Linked DNA regions of Homo sapiens: region 1 is linked to region 2. The links come from fine-mapping of genetic effects on gene expression. Tissue or cell type: whole blood. Region 2 holds a variant in brackets; the other region holds the start of a gene. All regions are shown on one strand. Distances are from middle to middle.

Region 1 (5,000 bases), 86 kb before region 2:
TTTCTGGAAGCCAGAGTGAAAAGAGAGACACAATCAGATGCGTAACAGTTATCAAAAAGCAGGAAGCACACCGGTTTTTCTGGTAGTAAAGCAAGGGCTTTCCAAGCTTTTAACTCTAAAGTAATTTATTTCGTTCTTTCTTTTTTCTCTCTCTGACACCCAGATTGGAGTGCAGTGGCACAATCAGGGCTCACTGCAACCTCTGCCTCCCAGGCTCAAGCCATTCTCCCACCTCAGCCTCTCAAATAGCTGGGACTACAGGCGTGCACCACCACGCCTGGCCAGTTTTTTGGTATTTTTTGTAGAGATGGGATTTCGCCATGTTGCCTAGGCTGGTCTCGAACTCCTGAGCTCAAGCAATCCACCTGCCTCGGCCTCCTAAAGTGCTGGGATTTCAGGCATGAGCCACTGCGCCCGGCCTAAAGTAATTTCTTACTTGAGATTTTATTTCAGGCTACTGTGTCCATGCACTGGGCAGTACAGCCTGGTGGGTAAGACAGCACAGTATTTTTTTTTTTTTTTTGTCTGCTGGGTTTGAATTTTGTTTTAATACACGCAATTTATTCTGTGCTTCACTTTCTTCATCTGTAATATGGAGATAATGGCATCTACCTATTAAAGTTGTGAAGATTCAATTAGATGAGTTGTATGAATAAATGTTAGCTGTTAGTTTAGTTTCGTTTTTTTGAGACGGAGTCTTGCTCTGTCGCCCAGGCTGGAGTGCGGTGGCGCAGTCTCAGCTCACTGCAACCTCCGCCTCCCGGGTTCAAGTTATTCTCCTGCCTCAGCCTCCCAAGTAGCTGGGATTACAGGCGCCCGCCACCATGCCCAGCTAACTTTTGTATTTTTAGTAGATCCGGGGTTTCACCAAGTTGGCCAGGCTGGTATCGAACACCTGAGTTCAGGTGATCCACTCACCTTGGCCTCCCAAAGTGCTGGGATTACAGGCGTGAGCCCCCGCGCCCAGCCAGCTGTTAGTTAATCAAGAAATTCGACTGCCTACTACTTAACCTGCACAGTTCTAGGTGCTGGGGAAACAGTGACGAACAAGACAAGATCCTTATCTTCAAGTAGCTTTTACATTTTAGTGGAGTAAAATGACAGTAAACATTGAAAATAAATTTCAGAAAGTGCTGTGGAAAAACTTTACAACAGACGCAGGAATAGATTTCATTTGACTAGTTCTCCCAGTTTCCAGAAAAGTCAAGGGTAGAATGTTAAAAGGCAACTCAGAGGAGGTGAATCTGTTAGGGCCTACGGTAATGCAATCCTGGTTTGTGGAATTCTGCAGGCTAGTGTGGGTAGGTTACAATTTTTTGGGGGAGTTGTTTTTTACTTTGTTTGAAAACTCACTTCTTCCCGCTGAGCTTTTGATTAGGAGCTGAAGTTGAATCAGTTTGAAATTGTATTCTGGACCGGATGCGGTGGTTCATGCCTGTAATCCCAGCGCTTTGGGAGGCCGAGGTGGGTGGATTGCTTCAGCCCAGGAGTTTGAGATCAGCCTGGACAAAATGGCAGAAACCTCATCTCTACAAAAAATACAAAATTTAGCCGGGCATGATGTTGTGAGTCTGTAGTCTCAGCTACTCAGGAGGCTGAGGTGTGAGGATCGCTTGAGCCCGGGAGGCAGAGGTTGCAGTGAGCCGAGATGCCACTGCACTCCAGCCTGGGCGACAGAGCCAGACTCTGTCTCAAAAAAAAAAAAAAAAAAAAAAAAAAGAAAAGAAAAGAAAAGAAATTGTATTCTGAATACAACTTCTAAAACACTATATTTACTTGCATTATATTAAACTGGTTTTATCCTGACCACAATTGCAGGTGGAAGATACCACTATTGTTCTATTTTTCTGGTAAGTAGAGTGAGCCATGTCTTGCCCAGGGTTACAGAGCTTGGAAAAGACGCCTCCTAAAAATCTGTAGGACCACCTTTGGTTTTCTTCCAGATTTTTTTTTGTCATCTCTTTTCCTCCACCCATTTCCCATCTGTCTAGCCATTCTTGCTCCGCTGGGCTTTTTCGCGAGCCTCTCCCCAGCTGCAGCCCCGCCCATCTCCTGGGGCGTGACCACCTGTCCAGGCCCCGCCCCCGTCCAACCGGCGGAGACCCGCCCCCTTTCCCGGACACCGGGCTCAGCGCCCGAGCGTGCGCGCGCGTCCTCGCTCGTCGCCCGGCTCGGCGTCGGGAGCGCGCTCTGTGTGGCCGCTGCCGCCATGTTGTTGTGGTTGTGAGAAGGCGGCGGCGGCGGCGGAGTAGCAGCCGGACGAGACGTCCCAGCGGCTCAGGCGCTGCCCAGCGCCGGCCCTGGCAGGGAGCCTGGTGGGGTGGCGGAGGGGGAGACTGTGCCGTGGAGGGCCTCGCCATGTCCTGCTGCCCGGTAAGAACCCCATCCCCGTCCTCCGTCTCCTCGGCGGGTGAGGAAGAGCTGGAGGAGGGGCCGGCCTCGGCCCCGGCCCTGGCCAGGCGGCTGTCACCCTCTGAGGAGGCAGCGCCCTGGGAGGGCTGGGGACTGCGTGCGGGGCCCGGGGAGGGGCGTCCCCGGCGGCTGTCGCCGCCAGGGGGAGGCGCTGGGTGTGGGAGTGGGAATGGGAGCTCGGCGGCCGAGCTCGGCCCGGACCCTAGATGCGGGGGAGGCGGGGTCCCGGGCTCGGGCTGCCTTCCCAGACCTGGCGGGGATGGGCCCGTGCGGCTCTGGGTGTGGGACGTACCCTCGGAGCGCCCGGAGTTATTCCCACGAACTCCCGGGAGGTGGGTGTGCGCCCTTCGCCCCCTGCCGGGTCTGTGGCGGTCCATCGTTGCCGGATACTGGAGGTCAGGGGCCATGGGAGCCCCGGGGCGAACGGTGCGGGCCTGGGCCTTGTGGAAAGGAGGAGTGACCGCCCGATCGTGCAGCAGGGCATCCCCCTGACCTGGTAGTACTTAGGTGGGTAGGATGATTGGGGGCGGTTGGCGTAACTGAGGGAACCCTGGTCAGACTGCTCCGCAAATGATTACAGTGTTATTTCTCCGGTAGTAATTTTGCTTGATGTATGGCATTTCCGGACCCATAAGATGATACTGTAGGTTGTATTTTGGACTGGAAAACTTATGTCAAAATTATGGGGTAGATTTTTTGGCCACATTAATAGACTCCCCTGGAATTTGATAATCTCACTTGTGAGTTTTGGACATGGACTGCTATTACATATTGATGTTCAAATGTCCTTTCCAGACCCAGGCCTAAATTCTTACTGTTGTAGTATCTTGATTCTGACATCTATTTTTCCACAACCCAAACAAACAAAACAAAACAAAACAAAACCCCAAAACCATATACTTTTCTAGTTAAGGTTCAACTTTCTCATATGTGAATGGTAATGCCATAAGAGGCCTGGGTTGAATTACAGGAGATTATTATTATTTTTTTCAATGTGAAATGTTTGTGATTTGTCCATGGAGAGGTGGTGGGGACCTTCCCCTTTCAGATTCAGGGCTGTTCAGTAGGACAGGAGACATTGATGGCATGCAGAAAGTCTTCCCTTTATAGGGCCTATGACTTGGGTAGGCTAGAAGAGCTTACAGAATGACACTTTTTTTTTTTTTTTTTTTTTTTTTTTTTAAGACAGAATCTCTCTCTCCCGCCCAGGCCGGAGTGCAGTAGTGCGATCTCTGCTCACTGCAACCTCCGCCTGCCAGGTTCTAGCAATCCTCCCACCTCAGCCTCCCAAGTAGCTGGGATTACAAGTGTGCGCCACCACGGCTGGCTAATTTTTGTATTTTTAGTAGAGACGGGGATTTCACCATGTTGGCCAGGCTGGCCTGGAACTCTTGACCTCAAGTGATCCGCTTGCGTTGGCCTTCGAAAGTGTTGGGATTATAGGCGTGAGCCACTGCCGCCAGCCAGAATGACACTGTTTTGAGTAAACCCAGTATAGTATGTGATATTAAATTAAATTTGGAGGATTCTAGAATTTTAGATTGGCTGCCTATGAATACCTCTTTTGGCTCCAATTACTCCCTCATTTTCAGGTGACTCAGAGAACTTCAAGTGACCAGCACAGTGGTACAGCCCCGCTTGTCGTTAATGACCAGCCATAAAAAACCCTGAGTTTCTCAGCTCATAGGCCAGGTTCTTCAGTGGTTGTCTAGTTTAAGGCTGGTCATTAGAAATATTATGGACTACCTAAATTCCTCGAACTCATGCAGGACCTGGTGAATTAAAATCTCTGAGGATAGAGCCTGGGGATCTGTCCTTACAAAGCTCCGTGAATGATTCTGGTCAGCAAGGCATGTGAACTTTTGCTTTAGGTTGGGTATTCCAAAGAAGTCCCATTAATTATGACTTCTCAGGGTGCTTTTGTTTATAGATCTTTAAGAATTTAAGAGGTGGAGAAGGGGAAGCATGAGAAACTTAAAGAGATGCAAATTGAGCATCTCTTAAAATATAATGGATTTATGTAGGGGAAACAGATTTGTTGCCAAAAGTTAATTTGCAAACAAGTTATTAGGAACACACTTGATAAAATTAGATGCTGATTAATTGGAGATATACTGTATCCAGAGATATATTGAAGGATCCAGAGGAAATAAACAGAGAAGGAGAGGGAGTAAGTCGGCTTCTGGCTCATAAAGGGGTCCACTGAAGATGCTTCCCACCATTATGGTTGCTCCTAAACCATCTGACTCAGATTTCTAGTGGAGGGTAGGATGGGTGTGTTAGCAATCATTTGAGACCCGGGTTGTGAACCAGGAAGGGTTACTATGTATTGTGAAAAGTTCTTGAGATTTGCCGCAGGCCATGAGGAGTGGTAAAGTCAGTTTAAAAATCTGCTGTAGTTCTAGTTAACACGTTCACACCTTCTTCAGTAAAGTGGAATGCTGTTACCAAAGGAAGTATTCGTGTTTTAGAGGGGGGTGTGGTGAAGGTTCTTACAAGTTTGGAAGAGGTGGAAGAAAATGTTGTTACAATTGTGTAGAGTAGTGAAGGGCTTTGGTAAATATCCTGTCAAATCATAGAGTAGTATT
Region 2 (5,261 bases):
TTCAAAAATAAAAGGTTAGTTCCTTAACATCTTCCACTGGTGACCTGTAGGGGTGTGCGTGTGTGTGTGTGTGTGTGTGTGTGTGTGTGTGTGTGTGTGTGTGTCTGTCTCTGTGTGTGTGTGAGAGAGAGAATGTTTCTTTATGAACTCATATTTAAACATCCTGAAACCCAATCCATTGCATTTAACCATTTTGCTCAAATTATTTCATTTTTAGCTAGTGAGTCTCTTCAAATTGACTCCCAATTATTTCTGACTTACCCTCAGTAGTCTTTTATATGTTTCTTACATTCCAGTTTAATATGATGTTTCAGAATCAAATTGTACATTTTCTTTTCTAGACCTGGAATTGGTTATATTTTCTTTCAGGTGCCCCATCTTCTTTTGAAGTGGGAATTAGTCTTTAGGGACCACAGTCTAGGGGCTTAGAATGCTCATTGCTGCTGGGTTGATACTGTAACTTTTTTGCAGCGTTTATTTTTATCTTATGAAGAGTTTGATTATATTGTTACTCTTCACCTCTGTTGTGTGTGTGTGTGTGTGTGTGTGTGTGTGTGTGTGTGTGCATGCGCGCGCGCGCGCATGTTTTTTAGAGACAAGGTCTTGCTCTGTCACTCAGGCTGGAGTGCAGTAGCATAAGCTCACTGCAGCCTTGAACTCCTGAGCTCAAGGGATCCTTCCACATCAGCCTCCCAAGTGGCTAGGACTACAGGTGTGCACAACCACCTAATTTTTTTTTTTTTTCAGTAGAGACAGTCTTGCTATGTTGCCCAGGCTGGCGTTGAACTCTGGGGCTCAAGCTGTCTTCCTGTCCTGGCCTCCCAAATTGCTAGGATTATAAGAGTGAGCCACTGCACATGGCTTCTGTATTTTTTTTTTTTTGAGCTATAAGTCATATCACATAAAATCCACCCTTTTAAAGTATACAATTCAGTGGTTTTTAGTATAGTCATAAAGCTGTAGAACCATTACCATTACCTAATTCCAAACATTTCATCACCCTGCAAAGGTACCTTGTACCCATTAGCAGTCACTCCCTATTCTTCCCTCAACCTGGCTCCTGGCAACCACTAATCTACTTTCTGTCTCTGTGGATTTACCTTTTCTGGACATCTCATACAAATGGAATCACACAATATATGGCCTTTTGTGCCCCAGGTTCTCTCATTTAGCATAATGTTTTCATCTATGTGTGTCATGTATCAGTATTTTATTCCATTTTATTGCTGGATAACTCCATTATATATACTGTGTGTGTGTGTGTGTGTGTGTGTGTGTATTTTTTGTTTGTTTATCCATTCACATTTTGTTTGTCCATTCATTGATTGATGCATATTTGGGTTGTTTGCACTTTTGGCCATCATGAATAATGCTGTTACGAAAATTTGTGTAGAAGTTTTTATGTGGACATACCTTGTCAGTTCTCTTAGGTATATACCCAGGAGTGGAACTGATGGGACATATGATGACTCTAAACTTTTTTGGGAACTGCCACACTTTTCCTCAGAGGTTGTACCACTTTACATTCCTGCCGGCAGTGTATGGGGGTTTCACCTTCACATTCCATCTACATCTGACATTAGTATCTTCCTCACTGGAGTTATATTTTGTTATTTAATAGTTTTGCAAAATGCATTAAATTCACTTCCATTTAAATTGTTTAAGATACAGCAGTTTGAATGTGTCAATGATGCTATCTTTAGAAATTTTATTCTAAAACACAAATATCTTTTGTGTAATATTAGGACAGTTTTTTAAAAGTAATTCAGTATGTTTCTTTTTTGAAAAGGTTCTTTATAACAGTATCCCGTTCTTTTAATAAGTTCATACCCTCAAATTTTCTCTGCCTTTGCCCTTCTCCTTTTTAATTCCAATAAGTGCCTTTTTGCACATCTTTACCTTCCTATCTAAAGTAGCATTTCTGTTACACCATCACCAAACTCTGCTTAATTTTCTTTGCAGCAGTTGCCTACTGCTTAACATTAGTTATCTGTTTCTTTGTTTCTAATGAGAAAGACCAACAATAAAATCAAGTTCCATGAATTTCTGTTCACAGTGGTGTCCCCAAAGTCTACAACAGTGCATGGAGTGTAGAAAATATTGAATAAATATTTATTGAAAAGAATGAATAAATGAGATAATTTTACATTAGTTTCAGTTCTTGAGCTAGGCCAAATCACAAAAGTTTGGCTTGGTTTGAAGAGTGGTTAAGAATGATGACTCCAACTTGGTCTGTTACTGAACCATAAGGTTCTTCCTCATCCTTCCAGCCTCTAAAAAATGGTGCACCCAAAACCCCTGTCCTTAGTCATCTTAGCCTCTCCATTTATACTTGCTCCTGCATTTGGCTTTAATGCCATTCACACACTGATGTCTCCCACATTTATGTTTATATCTCTAGGCTCCATCTTCTTGATCTCTAGTCTGGTTTAACTAGCACTTTACTTGGCATCTTTGTTTGGATATGTGATAGGTTTTCAAACATAATGTGTCTAAAATGGAAACTTTAATTTCTTGTTCCTTGTCCGTTGAGCTGTCTCTGCATGGCACGAGAAGAATAGATTTTTCTTACAATGCTCTTCATCAATAAATAGAAAATCCTTGCTTCCGGTTGCTGACACAAAAAGCTTGACTTCTCTTTTTCTATCCTATTTAATTAATCCACTCAAATCCTATGGGCAGTATTTTCAAAGTATATCCAGAATCAGTAACATCCCACCACTTCTATCTCTACTACCTTTTCATTGCTATATTGTCTCTTGCTGGGGTTAATGACGCTTTCTAATTGGTCTTCTTTTGCCCCTTACCCCCAGTAGCCTTGACTGTTCTCTACCCAACAGCCAAAATGATTCTTTTTTTTGTTTTTTTGGTTTTTTTTTGAGACTGAGTCTCACACTGTCACCTGGGCTGGATGTGCAATGGCGTGATCTCGGCTCACTGCAACCTCTGCCTCCCAGGTTCACGTTATTCTCCTGTCTTAGCCTCCCGAGTAGCTGGGACTACAGGCACACACCCCCATGCCCTGCTAATTTTTTGTATTTTTAGTAGAGATGGGGTTTCACTATGTTGGCCAGGCTGGTCTCGAACTCCTGACCTCGTGATCTGCCTGCCTTGGCCTCCCA[G/A]AATGCTGGGATTACAGGCGTGAGCCACCACACCCGGCCAAAATGATTCTTTAGAGTAAGTCATCTCCTACCATTCCTCTGCTCAAAATGCCTCAACACAATCTGGGCCTTGCTACTGCTTTTATGTTCTCTTGTTCCCTTGCTTACATTGCCCTTAAAAGAGTTTTATGCTGCACATTGAAGCCCAGACTCCCTGAAATATCCTGTGTTACAGAAGCTTAGCAAACTAGAAATGTTGGTTTTGCATGAGACTGTTCAAAGAAAAGAGCAACTTACTTACTCTTTGTATAAGCCTATTTTTGGGTTTCTAGTTGGATATTCTTTCCCCCTTTTTTGTTCTTATAAAACCAGGTAAAGGTATTAGTACAGATTGTAAGTTTTTAGAAGAGCATAGAATATTTGGGTAATAAGGCAAATTTATTTTTCCTATTTTGCTCGTAAGTCAGTTTGGTTTCCTCAGATGGGGGATCCATTTTGAATTTAGAGATAACCACAAAAACATCCTAAAATACTACAAGAATAATGATTTTGCATTTGCAGGTTGATGTTATTTATTTTTTTGAGACAGAGTCTTGCTCTGTTGCCCAGACTAGAGTGCAGTGGTGTAATCACAGCATACTACAGCCCCAACCTTCCAGGCTCAGTTGATCCTCCCACCTCATCCTCCTGAGTAACTGGGACTACAGGCATGTGCTGCCATGACCAGCTTTTTTTTTTTTTTTTTTTTTTTTTTTTGAGACAGAGTTTCACTCTGTTGCCCAGGCTGGTCTCAAACTTCTGAGCTCAGGCTATCTGCCTCAGCCTTCGAAAGTGCTGGGATTATAGGCATTAAGCCACCTTGCCTGGCCTGTAGGTTGATTTTAATTGTTGCTTTATTCATCCAAGTTTTATGATATTTTTTGTTTTACTACGAACATTAGGAATGTTAGCCTTTGATACTGTTTTTGCAGAAACAGGTTAAGACTAACAGGAGTTTTACAAAGGAACTGTCAAATTGGGATTTGACTAGTGGGAATTGGCTGGGTGATAATCAACTTTTTCTTGGCTGACTCTGATCAGCTTCTTAGGCCTGTGTATATACAATACCTTTGTGAGGATATGGCCGATTAGGGGAAAAACTATTGCCAATTTTGCCTCCCCTCCTCTTTTTTTTTTCTTCTTCCCCCTCTTCCCCCCCACCCCCAGACTTCACCATAAGGGAAAGAAGAGAGCCTTGTTGGACACTGAAGAAGGGACGGGGATTTCTCCTCCTAATCTGGGCCTCTTGTCATGGTAAGTACAAGGAAATAAGAGTAAAAAAAAAAACAAAAAACCCTGTGTCCTGACAATTAAGTGAACACTAATAAATTCATACTTACCCATTTTTGTTTTTGTAAGAAATTATTTCTTTTTCTTTCCCAGATCTCTTGTGTCTTTTCTTTTCTTGTTTACTTAGTAGTAATAGAGTACTCCAATATACAGAGCAGTTTCATTTCTGTTAACTTTAATCCTGTGAGCTAGATGTTGTCTCTTATTTTTCAGTCAGCAAGTAAATGGAATCAAGACTAAAACATACAGTTCTCGGACTCCAGGTTTTTAATTCCTTTTCTAGGAAGTAGCGTGTAGTGAAAACTGTGTGTGTGTGTTTGTGTGTAGACAAATTGTAAGATGGTAATCTGCATATTTACTTAAAAATTTTTTTAAATTGACAAATTACATATATATTGTGTACAGCATAATGTTTTGAAATACATATATACCTTGTGGAATGGCTAAATCAAGCTGATTAACATATGTATTACTTCACATAGTATATATGCTTTATGAATTTATAGAAGCAATTCCCTACCTTCCCTGTTTTGTCTCTTTAAGGCAGTATTTTGATCCCATAGTAGGTGGAGCAGCCCTGCACACCCCCTCCTGTATCTTTAACCAGAAAGAGAATTTAATGGACAATTTAATGACTTACGGGCCATTTCGGGCCCAGCTCAAGCAGAGAAGATGGAGCAACAAGCCAGCCACATTTTCATCAATCCTGAGGAAATGTAAACAGTGCTTCAAGGCTTAAAAAAGAAATGGTCCTCTGTAATATTGTCCTTCTTCTACCTTGTGATGTTTCCTAGATCCAAACTGTTTTATGCTGATGCACAGAGAAGGAAT

Evidence for each region. PIP is the estimated chance that this variant, and not a neighbour inherited with it, causes the effect.
Region 1: MTMR3 starts here. The variant in region 2 is fine-mapped to the expression of MTMR3 in whole blood (TOPMed, PIP above 0.99).

The regions. Positions count from the first base shown.
Region 1 is chr22:29,880,987-29,885,986 of GRCh38, forward strand. It overlaps MTMR3 (myotubularin related protein 3), which reads left to right and starts at 2,188. Exons shown (of 20, transcript NM_021090.4): 1 at 2,188-2,373. RefSeq lists an enhancer at 1,994-2,288 and silencers at 2,001-2,170, 2,231-2,730.
Region 2 is chr22:29,966,669-29,971,929 of GRCh38, forward strand. It overlaps MTMR3 (myotubularin related protein 3), which reads left to right. Exons shown (of 20, transcript NM_021090.4): 3 at 4,308-4,394. The coding sequence starts at 4,392. Among named protein-coding and RNA genes, the nearest start is that of MIR6818, 38 kb to the right of the region's middle. The variant G/A (reference allele first, on the strand shown) is at 3,123.